Homo sapiens: one gene and its partners. The protein of the gene in region 1 interacts with the protein of each later gene in a biochemical or structural test. Each region holds a gene or a part of one and is shown on either strand. Other genes may lie near its edges.

Region 1 (8,208 bases):
TTAAAGCATGTTTCAGTAAGGTTAATATAGTGTCCGAGTTTCTCTACTTTACCACCAGAATCCTAGAAGAGAGTAACAGCAGCAGCATAACTTCTTAAAACTGTGGTGTGGCAACCTAGAGTATTTCTGTTTAAGATCTATATATAAATGGATGCAAAATAGATACTTTAGAGCCAGATTCATGTAACTCTAACACAGGTTAGTTTTAAAGGCACTAACCTTTACTTTGGCTTTACTGGTATGCTTATCCATTAGTTAGCTGGAACATTTTAAAACTTTCATATAGATTTTTAAAACTTGTTTCTAGAGAACATGGTTTTTTAAAATTAATACTTTAAAAACATTCACTGTACATTAATTTCAACAGTAATACCGGCACCAGTTTTCCTTTCACTTCTGTCTCGTTATCCCCACAAAACAAAAGTAAAAAATCCAATAAGAAAATCCCAGTATTCATGATTTCTTAGTTCCCCATAGGAGGTATTTATGGTTCTAGGAGAAATCAGGTGTGAAGGAACAAGCAAATTTTAGTCTTATATTTATCTTGGAAGCTTCAGGGCCTCAAGAAAAACGAGAAACGAGCACAAAATCAGGTTGTTTTATATTTAATAAGTGTTGGGAAGAAAACACATTGATAGGTGCATGCACTCATGTATGTACATGAAAGCGGCAATGCGGTAAAAAGCGAATTCTTACCCAAGGTCAGAATTTTTTATTAAGCGCATTTTCATTAGTTGGACAAACAACCTTATAAACCCTTATGTCAAACCATATAATGTGAAGAATCTCCATGGGAGAGATTTTTTTTTCACCCTTCAGAATTATCTTTTTCCCCTAAGACCTTCATATGAATCTTCCTTGTACAGTTGGTCACACCATGATTCCCCATATTCTCTAATATATACAGCATTCCAAATTTAAACTTTTGCCTTTTTTACTCAAATATTTCAGTTACTCATATGTAAACTTGAAATTATTTCACCTTAATAAAGTTTATTAAAAATATATATATATATATATATATATATATACTCTCCAATTCAGAATAGGATAGAACCTCCCATAATGTAACAAAATCTTTATATAAAATATTAATTCAGTCTCCTTTTAACAACTCTAATGAATGGAAATATTTATTCTATATAAATTTATATATTTTTCATTTTTTAATCTTACTTAAAAAAGAGCTATCCCCCAAAACCAGAGCTGCAGAACACACCTGCAAAGGAAACGGCATGCACGTCTAGTCTGAGCACAGACAGCACAGCAGAGTGCAGACTGGAGAACGTTAAGAATAACAAAACCAGTTTCAGTCTATCAGTAGGCCAGTAGCTACTCTTCAGTTTCCACAATAGTATCTATTATGGGGATCTAACTTTTTAAATATCTCTAACTGACATCAGAGGGAATCAATGAAAAATGTCTATTTCCTTCATCGAAATATTAGATGACTTTTTTTTTTTTTTTTTTTTGAGACGGAGTCTTGTTCAGCTGCCCAGGCTGGAGTGCAGTGGCTCGATCTTCGCTCACTGCAACCACCGTCTCCTGGGTTCAAGCGATTCTCCTGTCTCAGCCTCCCAAGTAGCTGGGATTACAGGCCACCACCATCATGCCCGGCTAATTTTTGTATATTGGTAGAGACGGAGTTTCACTATGTTGGGCAGGCTGGTCTTGAACTCCTCACCTCAGGTGATCCGCCCGTCTTGGCCTCCCAAAGTGCTAGGATTACAGGCGTAAGCCACCATGCCTGGCCAGATGATGTATTTAAATATCATACCAAACTCTGTGTATTTATATAAAGAGAGACTGTTAAAAGACTTCATAATATAAAAAAAAACAAAAACAAAAAAAAAACTTTACGCTTACCATTGCTGCATATTGTTGCAGTATAAAACACACACTTATCTGGGATCATGAGAATACGGCAAGAATGTCCTGCGTAAACTGTAACTTTGACAGCATTTAAAAAATAAAAATCAAATTAAGTGCCTTTGAGGCCACTTCTTCCCAGTTGCCAGTTTTCTTAACCCGGTACTAAAATACTGCCACACACAGCTGCATGTCTGAGGATCATATTTAAATATTTAAAATGCATCTACAGTCTGTCTTAGTTTTCTTTATATTTGGGAAAAATTTTGAATCTTAAGTGTGAAAATGTAATCACAAATGTCTTTACCAGGAATAAAAACACATCTAGGGTAGCCAGCAAATTTAAAGCAAATAAAATATTTTGTAGTCACAGACTAATACTGAGGTCTGTAAAAAGAGTTGAATGAATAATAGACAGACATCAAGGATATATTAGTTCCAACACCATCCATTATTGTTTCTATAACCAATAATACTTTAAAAACATTTGTTAATCAAAATAGGCTGACATTGATATAACTATTTATGTGTAAAAATAGTGCACGATTTATCTTCCACAAAGCTAGTTTACATCCTAAGAGCTGGTAAACGCTTTTTTTGTTTTTTAATACAGACAGGGCTGAGACTTTGAAAAAAATTAAATTAAGGCATTCAAAATGGGTAAAGTTGCCTATCATGAAGCATTAGGAAACTGATATAATTAACTTTAAACTTCTTGTTACAGTAACTGCTTAAACATGAACATGCAACTTCCATCAGGTACACAGGAATGAGTGATATAAACTCCAACATTATGGCTTTATACAAGTGCATAGTTGCAACTGCAGCAAGTAATGATATCTGATTAATGTGTATAAAAAATAAAGTGGGAAGTTTAAAAAACCTTCTTGCAGTATTAGAGTACTATATATATATATATATATGTGTGTGTGTTTATATATATATACACAGTATAATGGTCACTTCTTAAAGATGCAGTCAATATCACTGTAGTGGAATCCATTCCCAGATTCTTCTGGTAAATGTGCTGGTGAAACCTCTCTGTTGAAGCTAGAAAAGATGTTTTCTTTAGCCTTTAACTCTTCTCAATCCTTGTGTGCATTGTAGTGTGAGCGACTGCCGAGAGAGCTTTATGGAAAAGTCTGGAAGAGTTGCATATATCCTTAGTCTATCAACCAATCATTGTTGGTTCAACCTGTTGCTTCAAAGGAGCCCAGATTTGTAATTTATATTACAGGGAAAAGGGGAACACATATATGTATGAGTGTATGTATCAGTCTCTCAGGAAAATATAGCTTTTTAATAAATTTTGGGCCATCATATTTCAGTCTTGTTTTCACTGGAAGAATACGATCACCTTGAATAATGACTGCTTTCATAGAAGGCAGTTAGCTGAAAAGAAAGGAAAAATAAAGTTAGTTGATACAGTGAAATAATTTAAGAGTGTTAAATTCCTAGAAAAAGCATTCCATTCACATTATTAAACTATATAGTCTTCCAGCTACTATATTTTTTAACACTAAAATCATGCATAAACATACTTACTGTATTACTTTTCCTATAGGTACAACATGCAATTATATTCTTTCCCAAAACAACTTGGGATTTTGGAATATTAGCTACACACATTACACACACATTTTAATATGGTTAACAAGCTATTAGGGTTAAACAATATACCACAGAATAACTTAGAAGATAAAAGTTTGATTTGGGGTTTAACTGCCAGCTGCCTCATGTAGCTGAAAGGGAAATGGGCCTATTGATCAGGTTCTACTTGGCTGTTCAACCCTAAGCCACATTTTGTTTTTCTATAAGATAGGACCAACTACATTGTTGTAGTAAATATATACAAGCTACTCTATGAAATCTGATTATAAATAGATACCAGTACTACCTGATTTATGTTTTGCAACTTGCTTACTTAGACTAAAACACACATTATTTCTTTTAAATCCTTCTATGTAAAAGGTTTAACTTGAGGCTCAACTTTCATTCAAATCTCCTTTAGCCACTATTAACCAAACTATTTTACATTTTCTAAAAGCACAATTCTCACAGCGTATCACTGACATTCTTCAGCAAGGGTAACATTAAATTCTCACAAAGCAAACATTTCACAGCACCACACACAAAAATGCCAAATCAGAAATAGCTATTTCACAGCACTTATTAGACTTATAAAGTTTTTATGCTTTCAATTCTTGCAAGTTGGAAATAAAAGGAGAGAGATGGAGAAAGGAATCTCATGCTATGTTCACAAACTAATATAGCTGTAGGAACTTGAAAACGTTGTAAATTTTACTTCTCTTCTGAATATGGCTTCTTTGGAATGAACAGAACGTATCAGAATTAACTCCTTTTGTGATTTCTACATCTCATTCCTAAGATAAATTCTAACTGTACTAAAAATTTATAGCCAATAAAGAATCTGAACATAGCATTTCACTTTTACACTTAACATGTAAATTTCAGTTAGCAACTTTTCGAAAACTACTTTTAACTATATACTATTAAAAACAAGTTTCAAAAATAAAAAATAATGAAAGCCCAAGTGGCAAACCACATGCACTACGTTGAAGTACTAAAATAACTGATTTTTCATTTTTTGATTTACCCCATTTATTTCTTCAGAAATCAAAAACATCGTCATCATCATCACCACCACCATCAACATCATCAAATGACCAATCCCAGTCTTTAAATGCCAAATCAAGCAATCTGCAATAGGAGGTTTGTAAATTTATACTCTAACACTCTTTAGAAACTGTAACTTAATGTTATGACTTAGAAATCATACTTTGAATGTGCTTGTAAGCATTTTAATTTTCCCTTCATGGATAACAACAAGATTAAAATTAAGACGGACGCACATAGGGAAGCCTTGCCCTTTATATATAAATGCATATAATCATGTTGGCCAAGTACACTTTCCAGATATTTGAAGACAGCGATCATATTTGGGATAATAAGAAACAATCTGCTTCTCCCTCCTCACTCCCATACCCCAGATAAACACATAACCATCCTGATGCCCAGTTTGATTTGAGAATTATGAAAGCACATTTGTCAATGTTCCCCTTCACCAAAGTGGTCAGATTGTCAGCTCAGTTTTTCCATCATAGCACCAAAAACCATGGGGTAAAAAGGGAGTAATAGAATAAGAAAGCAGCTTTCTGAATTCCAGTAGGACCCTGCCTGCTCAATGTGTCACCAAGAGCTTTGTCCTGCATATGAAAAACTAGGGACAAGGGAAAAGCCACAGGTACATAAGTAGCATTAGCAAGTCATCTTGGCTAAATTGGACTTAGAGTTGGGATATATGTGGTCTTTTCTTTCTAATTCAATAACCTAAACTGTAATATTGCTATCATCTTTGTTTTTAAAAATAGCCACCTGGCCAGATGCGGTGGCTCACGTCTGTAATCCCAGCACTTTGGGAGGCTGAGGCGGGCAGATCACCTGAGGTGAGGAGTTCAAGACCAGCCTGGCCAACATGGTGAAACCATGTCTCTACTAAAAATACAAAAATTAGCTGGGCATGGTGGCAGGTGCCTGTAATCACAGCTACTCAGGAGGCTGAGGCAGGAGAGTCACTTGAATCCAGGAGGCGGAAGTTGTAGTGAGCCGAGATCGTGCCATTGCACTCCAGCCTGGGGAACAAGAGTGAGACTTCGTCTCAAAAAATTAATAAATAAATAAAAATAAAAATAAATAAATAATAAAAAAAAGCAGTAACTTTTTCATTTTTAAAACTGTGGTGTTCATGAATCAACTTGTGCCAAGGAACTCATCTGGTCCCCAAAGTCTCACCTGTAATCACTATTGTCAGTGGTTCTTATTTACACACTTCTAAAGTAAGAAACTTTAGTGTATATGATTTACCTACTGCTCTTTATAAGGCCTCATTCCAAGAGATTTAGATATGACTGAAAAGGGCCCAAATATTTGCATTTTCAAATAAAAAACCTGAGGCGATTTCTGATACAGCTGGTTAACTTTGAGAAACACTGACAGAATAGGTTAATGGATGATTACTCTAATTTAAAATAAACACAGCGACTCAAATTACTCTTTTAAAATGTGCTAAACACAGCACAACATTTGAGAAAACACACAAACAGATATAATTACTCACTGAACACATATCGCAACCTGGCACACACTCACTTCTCTAGACTTATATATAATGTAACTTATAGCCATAGTTTCAGCTCTACTGCTTGGGAGATTGTGATCAGCAGGCCTTCCAGGGCATCCAAGCCTCAGCTTTAGCATAGGTTAGGAGAAAGCTGCATTGCATACCCTTTCAAAACCTTTGAAGTGTGTGCCAGTGTCACAATCTCAAATTTAAGTCTAATCGCTAGATGCGACTGTAGTGTATGACGAGACTTCCCTTACAACCCTCTCCCTCATCCCTTCGAATCAGTCATCTAATTCTAGTTATTTCAACTGAAGAAATCTTTCCAAATCCAGGTTTATTTTCTTCGTTTTCATTGTCAAGTACTCAGTTCAGGATCTCATTAAGCCTGAATACCAATCCCTTACTGAAAGACTTCTACTTATAAATCAAAACTCCTGAGCACAGTGTACATGGAGCTTTTCAGTTGGGTTCAGACTTTCTCTCTAGTGTCACATCATCTTTTACCACTCCCTACCCTTGCCTTCTCCCAACGCCAAGCCAACACAAAATTACAAATACATAAGTAATTCTGATGACTTTGTACCTCTGCACATGACATTTTGCTTGGAACTGATTTTCCCTTATTTGTCTGCTTGTAAAATTATCCATCCTCCATTGTTTGAGATCTTTCTTAATGTCCTCAGGCAGAATTCTCCATGCTTCCCTCGTTTCCCCAAGCGCTCTGTTCATCCCTATATTATAAACAGCATTTTACATAGTACTGTAATTGCCTGTTGCTTGACTGTCTCCACCATTAACAGGGATATAGTTCAGGCCTGCGAAACTTATTGTCAAAGATGCTTTGGAAAGAGTGCATTTAATTTGGAGTTCTACCAGCAGTCCACAAAAGTACCCATTTCGTTTCTTAACCCGTGCCAGTTTGGCAGGTGAAAAATGGTTTTATGTTATAGTTTTAATTTAATGCTAATTTCTTAATACAGTAGTCCCCCCATATCCTTGTCTTCACTTTCCATGGTTTCAAGTTACCAGTGGTGAACCACAGTCTGAAAACATTAAATAGAAAAGCTCAAAACAACTTAGAAGTTTTAAACTGCCCAACGTTGTAAACAGCGTGATGACATCTTGTGCCATCCCACTCTGTCCTGCCTGGGATGTGAGTCATCCCTTTGTCCAGCATATCCATGCTTGTTAGTCACTTACTAATGGTCTTCATTATCAGATTTTAAAAAATTGTATGTGTACGGTCCAGTACTATTCGTGATTCCAGGCATCCACTGGGGGTCTTGGACTACATATCCCTTGAGATAAAGGGGGACTACTGTAATCAGGCTGATCACTTTTTTTTACATTTAACAGCTATTTCCATAATAATGCCTGCATGCGCCTCATTAATTTTGTATGGGGATGAGGCAATCTTTTTTCTCAATGATTTATAAGAACTTTTCGTATGTGAAGATACTAACTCATCTTTCTCATATATTTTGGAAATACATGGTGTTTTTTAAATTTACAAGGCTTTACTTTTGGGGTAGTTGATCTTTGGCTTTGTTTTCTTTGCTTTTATTATTTGGAAGTTCTTCCCCAATTCAAGATCAGGTATATATTCACCTATGGATTTATTTTTGACACTTCAAATTGTATATAACTTCATTATTTTCCCAAGTAGACTGTTAATTCTTTAACATTTAGAAATGAGGAAGAGCAAAGATAAGATAATAATGACACAATAGCTACTTCCTCCTTTAAGTTTTAACTGTGCTGCCATGTTTTACACTTCTTAAAACTCGGTAAGTGAGCATTTGTTACATTTTTGCTTTATACTTTTCTGCATGCATTAAATACTGCGTTAAAAAAAATCTTTAAAAGAAAAATAATTAAAGAGAAATACCCTCTAGCCAAACTGGTATATAATTTTTTTTTTTTTTTTTTTTTTTGTGTGACGGAGTCTCGCTCTGTTGCCTAGGTTGGAGTGCAGTGGTGCGATCTCGGCTTACTGCAACCTCCACCTCCTGGGTTCAAGCAATTCTCTGCCTCAGCCTCCCCAGTAGCTGGGATTACAGGCGCCTGACACCACGCCTGGCTAATTTTTGTATTTTTAGTAGAGATGGGGTTTCACCATCTTGGCCAGGCTTGTCTTGAACTCCTGACCTCAGGTGATCCACCTGCCTTGGCCTCCCAAAGTGCTGGGATTACAG
Region 2 (7,920 bases), on another chromosome or scaffold:
CAGAGTCTCTCTGTCGTCCAGGCTGGAGTGCAGTGGTGTGATCTCGGCTCACTGCAACCTCTGTCCCCTGGGTTCGGCTGACTGCAACCTCTGCCCCGCCGGGTTCAAGTGATTCTCCTACTTCAGCCTCCCAAGTAGCTGGGATTACAGGCGTGCACCACCACGCCTGGCTAATTTTTGTATTTTTAGTAGAGATGGGGTTTCGTCATGTTGGCCAGGCTGGTCTCAAACCCCTGACCTAAAGTGATTTGCTCACCTTGGTCTCCCAATGTGCTGGGATTACAGGCGTGAGCCATGACGCCCAGCCAGTCATTGAATAATTATTTAAAAATGAAATTTTGATGTAGTGAAACTTTGTCTTTTGTGGAAGTGCCTATGAGTCTGCAACCTGGTGGTCATTGCCAAATTGCCATTGGTTCACACTTGTAATTACCAGTAGCCAAGAGAGCCATGTGACTACTGTAAGCCCTACTGAAACCACTGACTGTTAAAACAAGTGTGTTTGTTTGACACATTGTGTGTGATCCTTGTCTACAGCCCAAATGACTGTTTTGGGTAACTCAAAGTTGAATTTAAAGATGAAAAAAGATAGGTTTCATAGTATAGGGGGAAGTGAAAGAGTGAGAGAGTTGGAAATTGTTAATCTGTAGCTAAATTCTTTATGAAATAAATGTGAAAGGATTAAGCTCATTCCGTGTAGTTCCTAGGGCGGACAAAAGGTGGAGCAGCTGTCTGAACCAGTGAATTCCTTGTCTCTGAAAATGTTCCAGCCCATAGTGAATAAACACCCTTGGGGCTGATCCAGTACTGGGAGGGGGCGAGTGGAAGACTCACAGGATCCTTTTCAATTCCGGAGGTCTATGAAGTAAAAAGCGGAAGAAGTTTTGGGAGGAATAGAGAGGGAGGGGGACATCATTTAAAAGTAAGTTTGGGCACTCATACCAATTCTCATACTTACTACTTTGTCATATGCTACCCAGTGGTTACAAACAGTAAAATGAAGTAAAAGTGCAGTACTAAGTATTAAAAATAGGCATTCAAATATTTTTCCAAATGCATGTTTTCAGCATTACCTCCAGGTAGAATATACCAGAACAACCAATTCATTTCTAAAAGGAAAATTGCATACCAATTTTCCTATCCCAATTTTCCTATTCCTATAAGAAATGAAAGAGACACAACGAGTTTTGTCAATAAAACTTTAGGAATATCTGCACATGTACATTTACATTCAAGTTGATAACACTGGTGGTTTCATTTCAATACAAATTATGCTAGAGAACTGACATTTCAGACATGGTCATATATATGCTATTTGAATTCCTTTATCTTGATACAGATCTTGATTGTGAATCTCTTGATGATAGATGTGCAGCTAATTTGTCCCGAAACTCATGAAGATAATTGTATTGCTGAAAAAAGTAAAGATACATTGGAATACACTGTAGAAAACTAGTTATCAGTGTGGGCACAATATTAGCAGGTATCAGGAATAAAAAAAAATACTTGCTAAGCACAATTCTACATCTTTTTGGGTAAGGAAGCATTTGCATCATGGGGAAGTTTTATCTTTTAGTAAAGCCATATAGTGTGAAAAACTATTGTTCTACAAGTCTCTAAAAATCAGAAGGTGAAATGAAATGTAGATGGATATGTTTTAAGTCTAAAATTCTTTCTCTCTTTACTTACAGGACCAAATAAGATTAAAACAGTACATAATGGCATTATTTTTGCTAACATTTTTCCCCCCTGGTAAGAAGGACAGAGCACTTTCTGTAGCAAGTAACTGGTATATTTAACAAAATCCATTTCTCAATTTATAGAAGCCCTAGTCTTCTGCTTTTTTGTGATGACATAATGCACTAGGGATAATTTTCATAGACAATATTTTTTAAAAACAAACTGTATTGCTAATCTCAGCAGATAAGCAAAATAAAAGCTTTAAATAATTTATTTGGAGTTTTAATAGCCTCCCAAAAGATATTCTTACTCTGCCAATCATCTCATTTCATATCCTTATTGAGATGTGGAAACTGCATTGCTAACACCAGCAAGCCTGTTTGCCACAGAATGCTGAGGTGATAAACTGAGTCTGTAGTAATATGGACTTAATTATCTGCAATGTTAAAGATGTAAAACATATGGATATTCATATATACATCTGGCCATGGCCATGTAGTTTGTTTTCAAGAGAAGAGAGGTGAACTTTTTGGATTTGAAGCATCATTTGATTTTTTTTTTTTTTTGAGACAGGGTCTCACTTTGTCGCCCAGGCTGGAGTGCAGTGGTGTGATCTCGGTTCACTGCAACCTCTGCCTCCCAGGTTCAAGTGATTTTTGTGCCTCAGGCTCCCAAGTAGCTGGGACTACAGGCACACATAACCACCCTGGCTAATTTTTGTATTTTTAGTAGGGACAAGGTTTCGTTATGTTGGCCAGGCTGGTCTCCAACTCCTGGCCTTAAGTGATCCACCCAGCTCAGCCTCCCAAAGTGCTAGGATATAGGCATGAGCCACCGCGCCTGGCCGCATCGTTTGATTTTTAACATAAAGAGAGTTGTCTGTTTCAGACCTGTACAGTGGAGTGGATCTTGTATGGATTGTCCCGTTAATGACCTTATTTAAGCCCTAAGAATCAGGTTGCTTGGTGAATTTATCAGTAATTATGATAATTCACTGTTAATGACACTGGATTAGACCTCCAACCCTGGGAAGATGGGCTCTCAAGTCTAGGGAGCTGCCTAACAGCCAGGATTCTTTGGTGCCCACTCCTCTGATGAGCGGATTCTAATGCTGAGAGGGCACGCTTCTGAAAAGAAGGCACATTAGCTTTACAGATCTACAAAATGAAGTGACATCTGCAGAATCTTTTCAGTAACATGATTAATGCAATATCCTTGGCATTGCTAGTGCAGTGTTTTGAAGTGTTAGGGGAATGTACATGTGGAAGATGTCCCCAGTTATCTACTGCAAAGGATAATTAGCACTGCTTTCCATTTTTTGTATTATAGTCATTCATCTGTCTTTATTAAATGTTTTGGTGATATAACAAGATCTTCCATAGATTTTTTTTGGCCAAGAATCTACCCAAGAACGTACCAAGTTTGTATTAACAATAACCATCTCATTGTCCTAGGTGAGAGGATCCATTCCCAAAACGGACTGGGGCAAAAACTGAGAAGTAGGTAGATCCTGGAAAAGTAAACCAGGAAGTTCAAATTTTCATTATCTTGTTTGAAATCCTGTGTGCTTTTTTAGACTACCTGGATTATATTTACTTGTAAATTTTTAAAAACTAAAAGCATAAGCAAGTGGTATTTGAATAACAGAGTGCTTTGGATTTTCATTTCACTGCCCTTTTGGATTTTCATATGTAACCTTTTGGTTACACATGAATCTGTATTTGTAACAACGACCCCAACCACAACCAAGCAAGCACCGCCCACCTCCTCACCTTGATGGTCTGTATTGCCCCGGATCCTCTTAGGTCTCGCAGGCTGTCTATGGCTTGCTCTGGTGATATTGTGTCAGACAGGTATAGTAGGAGACAAGCAGCTACTAATGGAACATGACAGAAAAATAATATGTTATTAAATAACTAGTGACAGGGTACAGCATTTTATATTTAATAAGACTTCTGTTGATACAGAAGACTGGTGTAATTGTTCCAAATGAATTAAAAGACTGAGACTTTTAGTGTGTGTTTTTGACAGTTAAATTATGATCTTAAATGACCGTATGGTTGAATTAGAGTTTAACACTGGCTTCATTCTTTCATCCATTTAAAGTGTTCATCCATTCAGTGATTTAGTATATTTACAGATATGTGCAACCATCACCACAGTCAATTTTAAAGCACTTCATCACCTCAGAAAGAAGTGTACCCTTTTGCTGTCATCCTCTATTCCCCATCAACCCCTGCCATAGGCAACCACTAGTGTACTTTGTCTCTGTAGATCTGCCTATTCTGAGCAATCACATAAACGGAAACATACAATATTTTTTTGTGTGTGTCTGACTTCTCTTAGCATAATGTGTTCAGGGTTCATACATATTGTAGCATATGTCTGTATTTAATTCCTTTTTATGATCAAATAATATTCCATTGTATAGATATGCCACATTGTGTTTATCTGTTCGTCAACTGATGGACATTTAGGCTGTTTCCATTTTTTGGCTATTATGATTAATGCTGCTATAAACATTTGTATACAAGTCTTTGGGTATATACTTTGGAGTGAAATTGCTGGGTCATATGTTAATGTTTACTTGTTTGAAGAACTACTGCTAGACTATTTTCCAAAGCCGCTGCACCATTTTACATTCCCACCAACAGTGTATGAGGGTTCGAATTTCTCTACATCCTTGCCAATACTTGTTATTTTTCATGTTTTTATAATACCCTTCCTAATTGGTGTCAAGTGGTATCCACTGTGGTTCTGATTTGCATTTCCTGATGACTGATGATGTTGAGCATCTTCTCATGTGCTTACTGACTATATGTGTATCTTGCATGTAGAAAGGTTTATTCGGATACTTTGCCCATTTTTCAGTTATGTTGTTTGTTTATTATTATTATTTTTTCTTTTGAGAGAGACGATCTCACTTTGTCATCTAGGCTGGAGTGCAGTGGTGTAAACTCGGTTCACTGGTGCCTTGACCTCCTGGGCCCAGGCAGTCCTCCAGCCTCAGTCCCACAAGGAGCTGGGACTACAGGCATGCACCACTATGCCTGGCTAATTTTTGTATTTCTTGTAGAGATGGGGTTTCACCATGTTGCTCATGCTGTTCTCAAACTCCTAAACTCAGGTGATCTTTCTGCCTTGGCCTCCCAAAGTGCTGAGATTACAGGCATGAGCCACGACGCCCGGCCTATCTTTATTACTGAGTTGTAAGAGTTCTTTTTATATTCTGGATACAAATCCCTTATCAAATATATAGATTGCAAATATTTTTTCCCATTCTATGGGTAGTCTTGTCATTTTGATAGTATTCTTTGAAACACAAAAGCTTTCAATTTTGATATCATCCAACACTAAAAAAATAACTACTACTCCAGTGTGGCATTTCACGAACTCTTTTTTGTTTTTCTTAGTACATTAAAACATTTTTTAAATTAACATATAGTAATTAACTTTGGTATTCATAAATAGTTACCCATGGAAACTATTTGGAAGTTACTCTATTATAACACCTCCACAGGAAGAACATCAAAAAATGTTAAAAAATAAGAATGCAGGTGTTAAGACTTGTAAATGATGTTTTGCCAGAATCCTCCAGAACAATGCTGAAAATACCTCCCACTCCCACCCAAGCTTTCCAGGGAACACCATGTTTAGGGCCTTAAGTAATCCTTTGAGTCTTAGCAAACTTATATTTTGCTTGGTTCCATTTTAATACAAAATGAACATATGGTCTGGAAACAGAAGTTTGTCTATTTGGCGGTTAAAAAAATAATAGAAATATATTTCTTACCAAGACAAGATCTCCCAAGTCCTCCATAGCAGCTGAAAGGGAAATACAGTTTTGAAGTTTGTACATTTCATTCCATCCCTAGTTACAACTAAAGACTTGCTCTTTCTGCCTTCTATTTACAACTCTAATGCCTAGCACAGTGCCTTGCACACGAAGATTAATAAATATTTTTGATTTAATCAACTGAGAGCAAGGTGTGCTTATTTCTTTGTTGGGAGGAATTCTGAACACCTCTAAGCATCAAGATAGGCAGAGTCTTCTTATTGACCTCTTTAGGTTCCAAGATCCACATCTGAGAAATGGAGCATGTTACCAATAGATAGAAATCAGACTTTTACCAACTGTCACTTTGATTATTCCTCTGTCTAAACAAAATCTGAGTGGTTACTGCACAAATGCCATGTAGATAATAACCATTCATGTATCTAAAGGAGTCCAGAGATAGGGTATCACCGAAGTCTGGAGCATGGGCTCTGGAGCACCACTGCCTGGGCTTCAGTCCTGGCTCTGCCACTTATTAGATGTGTAAAGCTAAGCAAGTTATTTAATCTCTCTGGGACTCAGCCTTTTCACCTTTAAAATGGTGATAGCAATAGTATGTACATCAGAGTGAGGATTAAATGAGGCTCACAAATGAGTGAGCATTTGCCAAGGACTTAGAACACAGCTTTGTGCAGAGTAAGAAGTAAATGAACATTAGCTGCTGTTATCTAGCACTGTAAAGAAATTAGCAGTTTTGTATAACTGGATTTTCCAGAAAAATGGAGATTAATCCTCAGTAGCAAAACTATTCATTTAAGTCATTTTCAAAGATCCTAAAAAATGTATTACATGCTTCCTAATGTACTTAGAGGGTATACTGAGCCTAATTTAGTGTGGATGACTTATCGTTATGGACATCAATTACTGTATTGTATTGTATTGTATTGTAGGTAAAGCTGTAGATATATATTTTGCTTTAGGATGTGAAATAGAGGACTGAATAGGTATTGACCCCTAGTCTTACTCGTGAACTTGCTTTCCACAAAGTGTTCCAGACATAGAACTGTTTCAGAGATCTGGATCTACCATATAAAGGGAGAGGCTGGGCATGATGGCTCAGGCCTATAATCCCAGCACTTTGGGAGGCCAAGGTGGGAGGACTGCTTGAGTCCAGTAGTTTAAGACCAGCTTTGGCAATAAAGTGAGACCCTGTCTCTCCAAAAAAAAAAAAAAAAAAAAGCCTGGCACGGTGGCGCACACCTGAAGTCCTAGCTACTCGGGAGCCTGAGGTGGGAGGATCGCTTGAGCCCGGCAGTTCAAGGCTACAGTGAGCTATGACAGTGCCACTGCACTCCAGCCTGGGTGACAGAGAAGAGACAACTGCCTTATTAAAAAAAAAAAAAAAGATCAAGATAGAACACTTCAGTGTCTTTTTGCAAGATTAATACTATTTTATACCTTTTGCTATTTTCATCTTTTTTCTTCTATTTGATGAATTCCTACTTATCTTTTAAAACCTCAAATTTCATTTCCTAAAATGCCTTTGTGCTCCTACAGAAAGGATCATTTTCCTGTGTGCTGCCTCTCCTGTCTTATTGCAGTTAAATGGTAGTGTTAGTTATAGGTTCCTCGAAGGTGGGGACTGTGCCTCGTTTGGTAGTCTTGGCGTGTGGTACACGGTAGGTGTTACTGGTTGAATTATGTCCCCCCAAAAGACATGCTGAAGTCCTTATCCTGTACCTGTGAGTGGGACCTTATTCAGAATTTGAGTCTTTGCAGGTATATTCAAGTTAAGACGAATTAGAGCAGGCCCTCATCCTAGATGACTAGTGTCCTTACACAAGGACAACACCATGCAAAGACACAGACATCCGAGGAAGTGTGTGATGACAGAGGCAGACTGGAGGGATTCAGCTGCAAGCCAAGGCCTGCCATGGATTGATGGCCACCACCAGAAGCTAGGAAGAGGCATGGAAGGACTCTCCTCAGTCTCAGAGGGCATGGCTCTGCTCTCATCTTAATTTTGGACTTACATCCTCTAGAAATGGGAAAGAAGAAATTTCTGTTGTTTTCAGCTACCTGGTTTGTGGTACTTTGTTACAATAGCCCCAAGAAACTACAAAATACAGTAGGCAAGCAGTGTTGTTCACTAATTTTATAAAGGGCTGCAAATGTCCAGGCAGAACCAGTGAGACAGCACTGGTAGACAACAGGTCAGTGAAAAAGGTTTACCAGATCCTGTTGCTGAAGGATAAGCTCTATAGCTGTCTAGAAGTGTGGGTCCTCAAAGATGGCAGAATGGATAGAAAATAAACTAGTCACCGTAGGACACCTTCGAAAGCTCTAGGACAATGAAAAATGCCAGTTGTCAGATGCTTTATTTTATGGGAGACTGAAACATTCAGCATATGCAAAGTCACCCATCTACTGTCTATCCTGTTTGTACTCTGCACAAACATCAGAGC
Region 3 (8,561 bases), on another chromosome or scaffold:
AAGCTGGAAGATGGGACAGAGTTTGACAGCAGCCTGCCCCAGAACCAGCCCTTTGTCTTCTCCCTTGGCACAGGCCAGGTCATCAAGGGCTGGGACCAGGGGCTGCTGGGGTGAGTCATGGGGGAATGGGCTTGGGAGTGGGGGCGTGCATGGCCACCGCCCAGGAGGTAAGCTGTGGGAGGCAAGCCCCAGGGATACAAGACAAGGGCCCTGGGTGCTGCCATGGGCTGAGCATGTGTCTTCCTGCAGGATGTGTGAGGGGGAAAAGCGCAAGCTGGTGATCCCATCCGAGCTAGGTAAGAGGCCCCTCCTGAGGGTGCAGAGCGAGTTTGGGGTGTGTGACTGGGAAGGGTGAAAGCTGCTTCAGCTTTTCATTGGTCTTCACCGTATCCATTCATTACAATACATGCCTCCTCCAAGTTTGGCTGTGTCTAGCAGTGAGTACAGGGCAAGATCATTGAAGCACTCAGCTGTAGTGGCCCCACTCTGCCCTTGCCAGGCCTTTGGCACCCCCTTCCCATCTCCATTACCCTTCTCCATTTCTGGCCTTCTTGCTGAGAGGGGCGGAACACTCTCCCTTTGCCCACACTGGAAGGGAGCTTGGCCATCACTGACTGTTTCTTTGTGCATCTTCAACAGGGTATGGAGAGCGGGGAGCTCCCCCAAAGATTCCAGGTAGTAAACCTTTTGATACCTCCCATCACCTGCAGCCAGCCCACCTCCCTGTGGCCCTGGTTGGCATTTTGACTCCCCTTCTCCCCTACAGGTGGTGCAACCCTGGTGTTCGAGGTGGAGCTGCTCAAAATAGAGCGACGAACTGAGCTGTAACCAGACTGGGGAGGGGCAGGGGGAGAGGCCCCCATCAGGGACCAGACTGTTCCAAAAAAAAAACAAAAAACAAAAACAAACAAAAAAACACTTAAAAGCCCAAGGAGTAAGCCTGTGTGTGTTTGTGGGCCCTGAGAGACTCAGAGACCTCAGCTCCAGCATACCCCACCACCTTCTCCTTTCCCGACTGTGGAGCCTTGGGGGTCTAGGCTCAATGACATGGTGGCCCTTGCCCAGAGAGAAAGGAGTGTTCCTGCCTGCCAACAGCAATACTGCTCCCCCCACCCCCACAGCTCCCCAGCCACTTTCAACTCCTGGTCTGGGAGCCAGCACTGGGCTATCGTCATGGCTACGTGGCCCTTAGGAAGGCCTGTGGTCACCTGGGGAGAAGCTGAGCTGGCAGAAGTCAAAGAGCAGTGTGCCCCCCTAAAAGAGACCAGCCGAGCCTGTTAGCTGCACCAAAGGCGTATCCTAGCTTTATTAAAGGGCCCGCGCCGCAGAGTCAATATAAAAACACAAAAAGTCCCATCAGTTTAATAACAATAAAAAACCCCAAAAGTGGAAAACTGAGGGGGCAGGGGAAGAGACCCCTGGGCCAGGGGCACGAGGAGCCCTGCTCATGGCACCAGGCCTGGCCGCAGGGTCCCCCGGTATTGCTGTTGCTACGAGGTTGGGGGGCAGCGATTGTCCTGTGGGAGCCACCGTTCTCCTGGGTCGGGGACCGTCACTTCTTCTGGGGTGTGCTCAGCTTCTGCATGCCCCGGATCTTGTCCAGCAGGCCAGAAATGAAGGCCTGGATGGGGTGGGAGGGTAAACATTAAGGAGACCAGACCCCAAGATGACAGGAGCCGGGCTCCCCTCACCCTGCCACCCCCGCCAGCCCCCCAGGAAATCTCTTACCTCTGTGGGTTTGTAACAGTCAACCAGCAGCTCCTAGCAGAGGATGGGGGAGGAAGGATAAGTGAGTCCTCAGGAGTGGGGGCCTGGAGCTCGCCTATACCCACTTCCAAGAGACTGGGGCCACCCTGAGGCACAGGAGATGCCACAACAACCTCACAGCTAGGCATTGGCCCCATTCTGTTGAGGCAGGAGCTGGGGCTTGAGGGCCTGGCTCCACAGCCTCACTTTCCCGGGGCAGTGCCTCAGGCAACCCATCGCCCCCCAGCCCCCTCACCTTGACCCTGGCAGCCCGGGCATCGTCACTCTCCATGTCCAGGAGCTCATCCACGTCAATCTCCAGTTCTGGGATCTCCTCTTCCTGGGGTGGGGGTGGGGGAGGAGGGAGAGACATAAGCCTGAGTTGGAGAGAGGGTGTGAGAGGGGCTCTGGGTTGAGGCCCCTGCCTACCTCGGAGGAACCCAGCCCTCTGCCCAGCAGACAGAACAGCAGCTGCTCTGGGGAGGAAAACAGATCAGGCCCGTGCCAAGGCAAACTGCCCAAAGCGGGGTGGGGGGGGGAGCTTCCTGTCCCTGCCAGTGGGCACGGGGGGTGACAGACAAGGCCAGACAGCCAGGGTTGGGGACCTTGGGCTGGGAACCCAGCAGATGTGTCTCCCCAACATCCGGGCCCCCCATCTCACCAGAGCACCGGTGGGTGCAGCTGTCCCAGCTTATCATACCCCCCTCCCCTCCCCCAAACACCTGTCACAGCTCCCCGGGAGTGAGGAGGAAGTGAAGGCTGAGGGGTCACTGGGAAGGACCCAGGCCTGGCAAAGAGGAAACAAAGAGCCCATGCTTTGGTGAGGGAGGGGATGCCCACCACCCTGCCACACCCTCCCCAGGAAGCCCCTATCCTGTTTGTAGTCAGCTGCATTCCAGGGCTGGGCTAGGGTAGGCAGGCAGCACCGGGCAAACCCACTCCTCCACCCTGCCCCCCGGGGCCTGAGTCACCGTCTGAACAACCAGGGAGTCATGGGGGTGGAGAAGCAGAGCCCAGAAAGCGGGCTAGCCTGCACGCACGCCAAGATGGAGCTCCAGGCTAGCCCACAGAACAGCCCAGCCGCAGCCGTCCTACCAGACCAGCACCTTGTAACCACAGTCTAACCCAGCGGGCACCAGGCGGTGAGACCTCCTGCCGCTGCCAGCCCAGGATAGCCCCCTTGCCTCTTGCCCAAGGCTCAGGCTACCCCTTGAGGCGTCTGGAGGACACTAGGCTTGACCTGGGGAGTGGCATGATGGGGGGCAGGGTCCGAGGCAACGGAGAAGGCAGAAGTGACTTAGGTCAGGCAAGAAAGAGTATATATTGGGGGCGGGAGTGCAGAGGGGAGGGGAGCGCGCGGGGAAGCAAAGCGCCCTTTGACTCCAGTGACAGGCGAGCTCACAGTGGAGCTGCCAGGCGGACCGGCGCGAGACCGATTTTGGGGTGTCGGCGCGGGGTGGGAACACACCTGGCAGTCGTAGAGGCGCGTGAGCTGCTCCAGGATCCACTCCTCTAGGTTGAGGCGCTTCCGTAGCTCCTTGCGGTCATACTTGACGGTGACCTTCCCTTGGCGCCTCACTGGGCCCTCATCGTCCGCCCCGCCCGGGCCCTCTCCTGCGGCCCCGGGGGGGCTCTGAAAGTAGACGCGTGGTCCTGGGCCGCCACTGCCCGGCCCGGGGGCCGGGGCCGCCAACGCCGCGCCCCCCGCGGTGCCGCTGTCCGCCATGGCGGCCGCCGGGGCCACGTGCGAGCGTCGGGCCCCTCCCTGCGCCACCGCCTCCGGGACGCCCGCCGGCTGGCTCGGGTTAGCTCGCCGGCTCCGCTCCGCGCGGCTCCGCGGCGAGGGCGGCGGCGGGGGCGCCCGGGGGCAGCTGCAGCATGCGGAGCCCCCGGGCTTGGCCTGGCCGCGCCCCGCCCCCTCCCCGCCGATCCGCCCGCCCTTTGTCCCCCGCGGCCGCCGCCCGAGCTGCAGCCGCCGAAGCGCTTTCTCTGTCTCGCTCTTCCTCCGCCCCCCGACCACACCCCCTTAAAGGGCCAGCCCCTCTACAGGCCCCTCTCCCCTACTCCGCCCCCGGGCAGGGGTAGGGGAGGGTCTATTCGGCAGGGGGTGGCCTAGCTGTCCGTACTCCCCAAACGCAACCTTCCAGTCCCAAACCCAGGCGTTCTAAGCGCTCAGGACGACGATTTGCGCTCACGCCAGGACCCTAGTCTTCATTGGACCCTTCCTCATTCTGTCCTCATTGAGGCCATCTGAGAATAGGGGCTATCTGAGAATGCAGGGGAGTGGACATCGTGTGCAGACAGGGAGTCTGGTGAGGAGACGCTGCGGTCCCCGATGTCCAGGTCCTCCAGCCCTCGGCCAGCGAGGAGCGAACGGGCTCCTCCGCACGGACCGACACGTGGACTGGGCTCCTGGGAAAGGAAGAGTGGAGAAGGCGGGCAGGAGCTGTCCGGGTCCCTAGACTCTCCGAGTAGCAGGTCCCACGCCCCCAGCGGAAGAAGCCGGGGCTGGGGGTGAGCGGTGGCACCCGGCCGGCCCAAACGGCCAACCCCGGGCAGCCACCGCCCACCGGCAAGATGGCGCGAGGCTCGGGCTTGTGGGAAACGGAGTCCGCTCCCGGCGCCGCCCCTCCCCCGCCCTGCGGCCAGGCCGGGAAGCGCAAAGTTGTTTGGGGCGTCCTCTGCGCCTCGCGACCCGAGTGCGCACAGAGGGGGAAACTAAGGCGCAAAGAGCTGGGCAGTGCGGGGGCCGCGACTTATAATAATAAAGGCGGTAATTGCGGCTGACCCTAGGAGCGTGCGTCGGGACCGCCGCCCAGTCGGCTCCGCAGAGAGGGCGCCGTGCCGGGGCTCCTGCACCCCCGCCCTGCGGCTCCTCGGTCCTTCACATAGCCCTGGCCCACCTCCAATAAGCCGACGGCGCATCCCATTCCCTCCCTCTATTTTATTTTCTGCATCTTTAAATGGTCTCATTCATTCGTGTATTGTCTGTCTCCCACTTCTAGATTGTGAGTGCCACGGGGCTGAGGCCTGCGCCGACCTGGTCTGCTGGTGCTACCAGGCTTGAACAGTCTTCAAATCCACTGCTATTAGGCAAATTACCTGGCTCCCGCTGAACTCCAGCACCTAGAACTATGTCACACTCGTAGTAGGCCGCTGCATTGGTTGAACAAATGATTTTGAAAGAATGAATGTCTTCCTCTGTGCCTGCATTTCCTCAGAAGGCTGTAACAAAGATTAAATAGGAAAATTCGTGGAAAGTTCAATTACTACACCACAGAGGTTAATTAAGTCGCACTGCTAGATAAAACGGGAGACGAGACTTTGAACCCAGGCTGTGTGGCTCAAACCCCCTGACACGAAGTCTCTACTCAACCTCCTCACTACCCTGTAGACACCACCCAATAAGGCTGCGCAGCTCCCGGGGGATGTTTCTGTGGAAGGCAGGCTCACCTTGTGCCACCCCAAACAGGGTCTTGGATCTGAGAGGCAATGTTTCTGCTCCAGCCCCTCAAAGACACTCTTTGGATGTTGTGGGGGGAAGCCCTCTGCAGCGGGTGGGGTTCAGAGATGGATTGGGATTGGCCCCGGGGTCACACAGCTGGGGCTGCATCCAAACTCCAACCCAGGATGTTGGGCTCCTCCTTTGCCCTATAGTCAGAGAGAAGAGACCAAGAGAAGACAGAGGCTGGGCATTGTGAAGGCAATGGGCTCACAGGGCTCAGTTCAGGGAAGGGTAGAGTGAGCTGACCCCTCCCCTTCCCGTGCCCCTCCTCCGGCCTCAGCCTCCCTTCAGCCAGTCTGGGTGCCGAGGAAGGGCTGACCCTCGCTCTTGCGGATTAGGTAGGATCCACCCTCTCCACCGGGAGCCCTATCCGTGGCCTGGCCTCCTGCCCTAAGCCTGGCCTGATAGGAGGATCACTTTACCCCAGTCCAAATTCCCCACCACACCCCACCAGGCCAGGCCAGCTCCCTCTGAACCCAAGCATTGTTTGTACCTTGAGGGTGCACACAGATTAAAGGGGGAAGACCCTCAAACAGCCCCTAATGCCCAACAGCTTCTGTGGAAGTGGGGCCTGCAGGCCATGAAGACCCCCAGCCCTAGCTCTGCCCCCAAGATGCTGTGACCCTGAGCCCTGACCTTTCTGTCTGTCCTCCCTCAGGGTTGGTGTGAAGGTCTCCAGCCATGTCCGTGTCCACAGGTCAGGCATTCTTTCTGACTCTCCCTCTTCCCCCCACCGCGCCATGCCCAGGCACACCCAGATTCCTGTCCAGTTCCCATGGCTATCCACCCGAGACCACTTGGTGCAGGTGGGCATGCTGGCCTGCCACCTTCTTGGAAGCTGGGCCACAGAACCTTAGCCTTGGAGTAGAAATACTGGGTTCAAATCCTGGCTCTGCCCCATGGGCTGAGAGGCTGTATGCAAGTCACTTACCTGCTCAGAGCCTCTTCAGGGGGCTTATGGTCCTGACCTCCTGTGGTTGGGGGCCCATGCCCAGCCCTGGCCCTCCTGCCTGAGCCCTACTGGGACTGGAGTGTACCACTGCTCCTCCTCCTTCTAGCCTCAGTCTGTGGCCTCCCCAGCCCTACCCCTTCCAGGGCCCCAGCCCCCCTCCATTAGAGTGCATCCTTGAAGCAGAGGCTCTGGGGAGGGTCCTGTGGGTCAAGACCGCTCCTTCAATCAAGGGTAGAGTCCGGAAAGGCTGCCTGCCTTCACCATTACTGCCTGCTGAGATACCCTATTACCATTACCAAGGATGGAAGAAAGTGTCTGGGAAGGAAGGAGCCCTGTAATGGGGGCTGCCCTGGCCTCCAGAGACACAGGGTTGGGGGAGGAGAGAGGCTTAAGCCCAGGAAACAGGTGCCCATCCTGTTTTTTTCCACAAGGAGCTGCTGCCCAATGCTTCTCTAAAGTACGCTTGCACAAGGCCTAGGGCCCACAGCTCAGATCCCCTAAGCTCAGGCCTTGGCTCCAGGCTTTGCTAGCCCTGGCACAAGCTGGAGGTTCCACTGCCCCAGAGCTGACCTATGCCCTTTCCTCCCTCCCTGGTATACCCACAGCTTCCAGCTACTCATGTCAATTTGGCATCTCCCACCCATTTGCTTATGTATACAACAACCTTTAGGTTCTGGACAAGGTGACTGAGGCACCTAGAGAGACTAGGTTCTGCCACTAGCAAGAGGCTGCTAGCAAGAGCCGGATTTGAACTCCAGCCTGTGAGGGCAGAGGCCAAGCTCCACCTTGCATGGTTCTGTTTTCCCAATGAGGTCTAGAGGCTCCTGGGCCTCAGGAAGTCGGAGGGTTGAAATCCTCCTAAGAAGCTGTGTGACCTTGGGCAAGTCCCTTCCCCTCTCTGGGCCTCAAGTGGAGATCATAATCACACCCCACAGGGCCAGGGCTGAGAGCGAGGAGATCCGCCAGGTTAGAGTTGATGGAGAACTTGGCGGGGTGTGGAGGAAGGCCAGGGCCAGGCAGGGCTCCTTGTGGAGGTCTCAGAGCCTGGGGCAAAGGGGCCTGCAGGGGAGCTCCTCCTTTGCTGACCCCTCCTCCCCCAGAGCCAGCTGCATCTCTTTCTGGGTTTCTAGGTGACTTGGCTGGCCCCTCTGGATGAGTTCTACTTTAAACCTGCTGCTGTTACTGCCTCTGTATTGGGGGGGCTCCCACAGGGGCCCCCAGGCAGGAACCCCCCCCACCAGCTAAGCCCTGCGGGAGGGGCTGCAGCCCCCACCCATCCCATTGCCCATGCGCCTTCCCCGCTCCCATCTCTGGAACGCAGATTTCAGGGCACCTGCTGTGGGCCAGGCACTGCAGAGCCCCTCCTCAACCCTCCTGTCTGGGGACATCCACAAAGCTTCTGACCCCTCTGGGCAGACAACAGCGTTCCCCCCGCGGTTCCCAGCCAAGAGGCTCACAGTCAGGTTCCAGTCATGGGAGTCTGCAGCAACAAGAAGGGGGCTGTTCTAGGGCTCACTCTCGAAGACCAGGATGCTTGGGTCCTTAAAGGAGGTGGCAGGCGCCCGGCCTCCCTGGGCTAGGGACGGGGGAGGGGTGCCTGCCGGCGGGAGGTCCATTAGCCGGCTAAGTGCTCCCAGGGAGGGGGGACCGCGCGGCATAAGAGTGGGTGAGGCGAAGCCAGGGCAGAGGGGGGCGGAAGAAGCTTTTCCTGCATTCAGCTAAGTGCGGCAGAAGAGGGTGGGCGACAGGGCTGTGCAGCGACCCCCCGGCCCAAGTCTAGCCCTCCGCTGGTACTGCAGCCCTAGTCGCTCGGAAACCTCAGTGGGCTGATCCCGGACCGCCTTAAGCAGCGCCCTCTACACCCAGTCCCTCCAGCTGCTCCCCAACAGCCACTTCGGCCCCCAGCGCCCTCCTTCCACCACAGGCCTGAAGAATCAGGTTCTGCTGAGCCCCGCAGCAAAGCCCCCGACCCGTCCGCGTGCCCCTGCCCCAATCCCCGCTCCGGCTGCAGTCGCCGCCCCGGCCGCCAGGGGGAGCCGACGCGGTGGGAGGGGGCGGGGCCCGGGAGGCCCCGCCCCGTCCCCGCCCCGCCCGGGCCCCGCCGAGGCTCTGGTCGGTCCGGGACAGACTGGCGGGCGGGCGGGCACTGACGCCGCGGGGCCGGAGCGGGCCGCGCGGTGGGAGCAGCGGCGCCGTCGGTCCCCGTCAGGGCTCCGTGGGTCCCCGACCCGCCCCTGGCCGGGCCATGGCGGGCGCCCAGCCCGGCGTCCACGCGCTGCAGTTGGAGCCGCCCACCGTGGTGGAGACCCTGCGGCGCGGGAGTAAGTTCATCAAATGGGACGAGGTAAGCGCGCGGGC

Evidence for each region.
Region 2: the proteins of ROCK2 (region 1) and CDKN3 form a complex in vitro, tested with the Homo sapiens proteins (one study listed by BioGRID).
Region 3: of the proteins of ROCK2 (region 1) and PPP1R14B, one has a biochemical effect on the other in vitro, tested with the Homo sapiens proteins (one study listed by IntAct).

Annotation. Positions count from the first base shown.
Region 1 is NC_000002.12:11,180,180-11,188,387, forward strand, and holds part of ROCK2 (rho-associated protein kinase 2), read right to left. Parts: intron 6,745-8,208; coding exon of another isoform or gene 6,693-6,744; exon of another isoform or gene 5,606-6,692; intron 4,591-5,605; coding exon of another isoform or gene 4,500-4,590; exon of another isoform or gene 4,487-4,499; intron 3,262-4,486; coding exon 3,258-3,261; 3' UTR 1-3,257. UniProt on the Homo sapiens protein: Protein kinase which is a key regulator of actin cytoskeleton and cell polarity.
Region 2 is NC_000014.9:54,413,484-54,421,403, reverse strand, and holds the end of CDKN3 (cyclin-dependent kinase inhibitor 3), read right to left. Parts: intron 5,506-7,920; coding exon 5,474-5,505; intron 3,557-5,473; coding exon 3,453-3,556; intron 3,191-3,452; coding exon of another isoform or gene 3,131-3,190; exon of another isoform or gene 3,098-3,130; intron 1,413-3,097; coding exon 1,326-1,412; 3' UTR 1,186-1,325; downstream 1-1,185. UniProt on the Homo sapiens protein: May play a role in cell cycle regulation. Dual specificity CC phosphatase active toward substrates containing either phosphotyrosine or phosphoserine residues. Dephosphorylates CDK2 at 'Thr-160' in a cyclin-dependent manner.
Region 3 is NC_000011.10:64,243,202-64,251,762, forward strand, and holds PPP1R14B (protein phosphatase 1 regulatory subunit 14B), read right to left. Parts: upstream 3,743-8,561; 5' UTR 3,473-3,742; coding exon 3,215-3,472; intron 2,889-3,214; exon of another isoform or gene 2,665-2,888; intron 2,087-2,664; coding exon 2,003-2,086; intron 1,762-2,002; coding exon 1,729-1,761; intron 1,622-1,728; coding exon 1,553-1,621; 3' UTR 1,278-1,552; downstream 1-1,277. Other genes in the region: peptidyl-prolyl cis-trans isomerase FKBP2, read left to right, coding at 1-110, 250-296, 640-675, 767-828; PLCB3 (1-phosphatidylinositol 4,5-bisphosphate phosphodiesterase beta-3), read left to right, coding at 8,449-8,547. UniProt on the Homo sapiens protein: Inhibitor of PPP1CA. Has over 50-fold higher inhibitory activity when phosphorylated.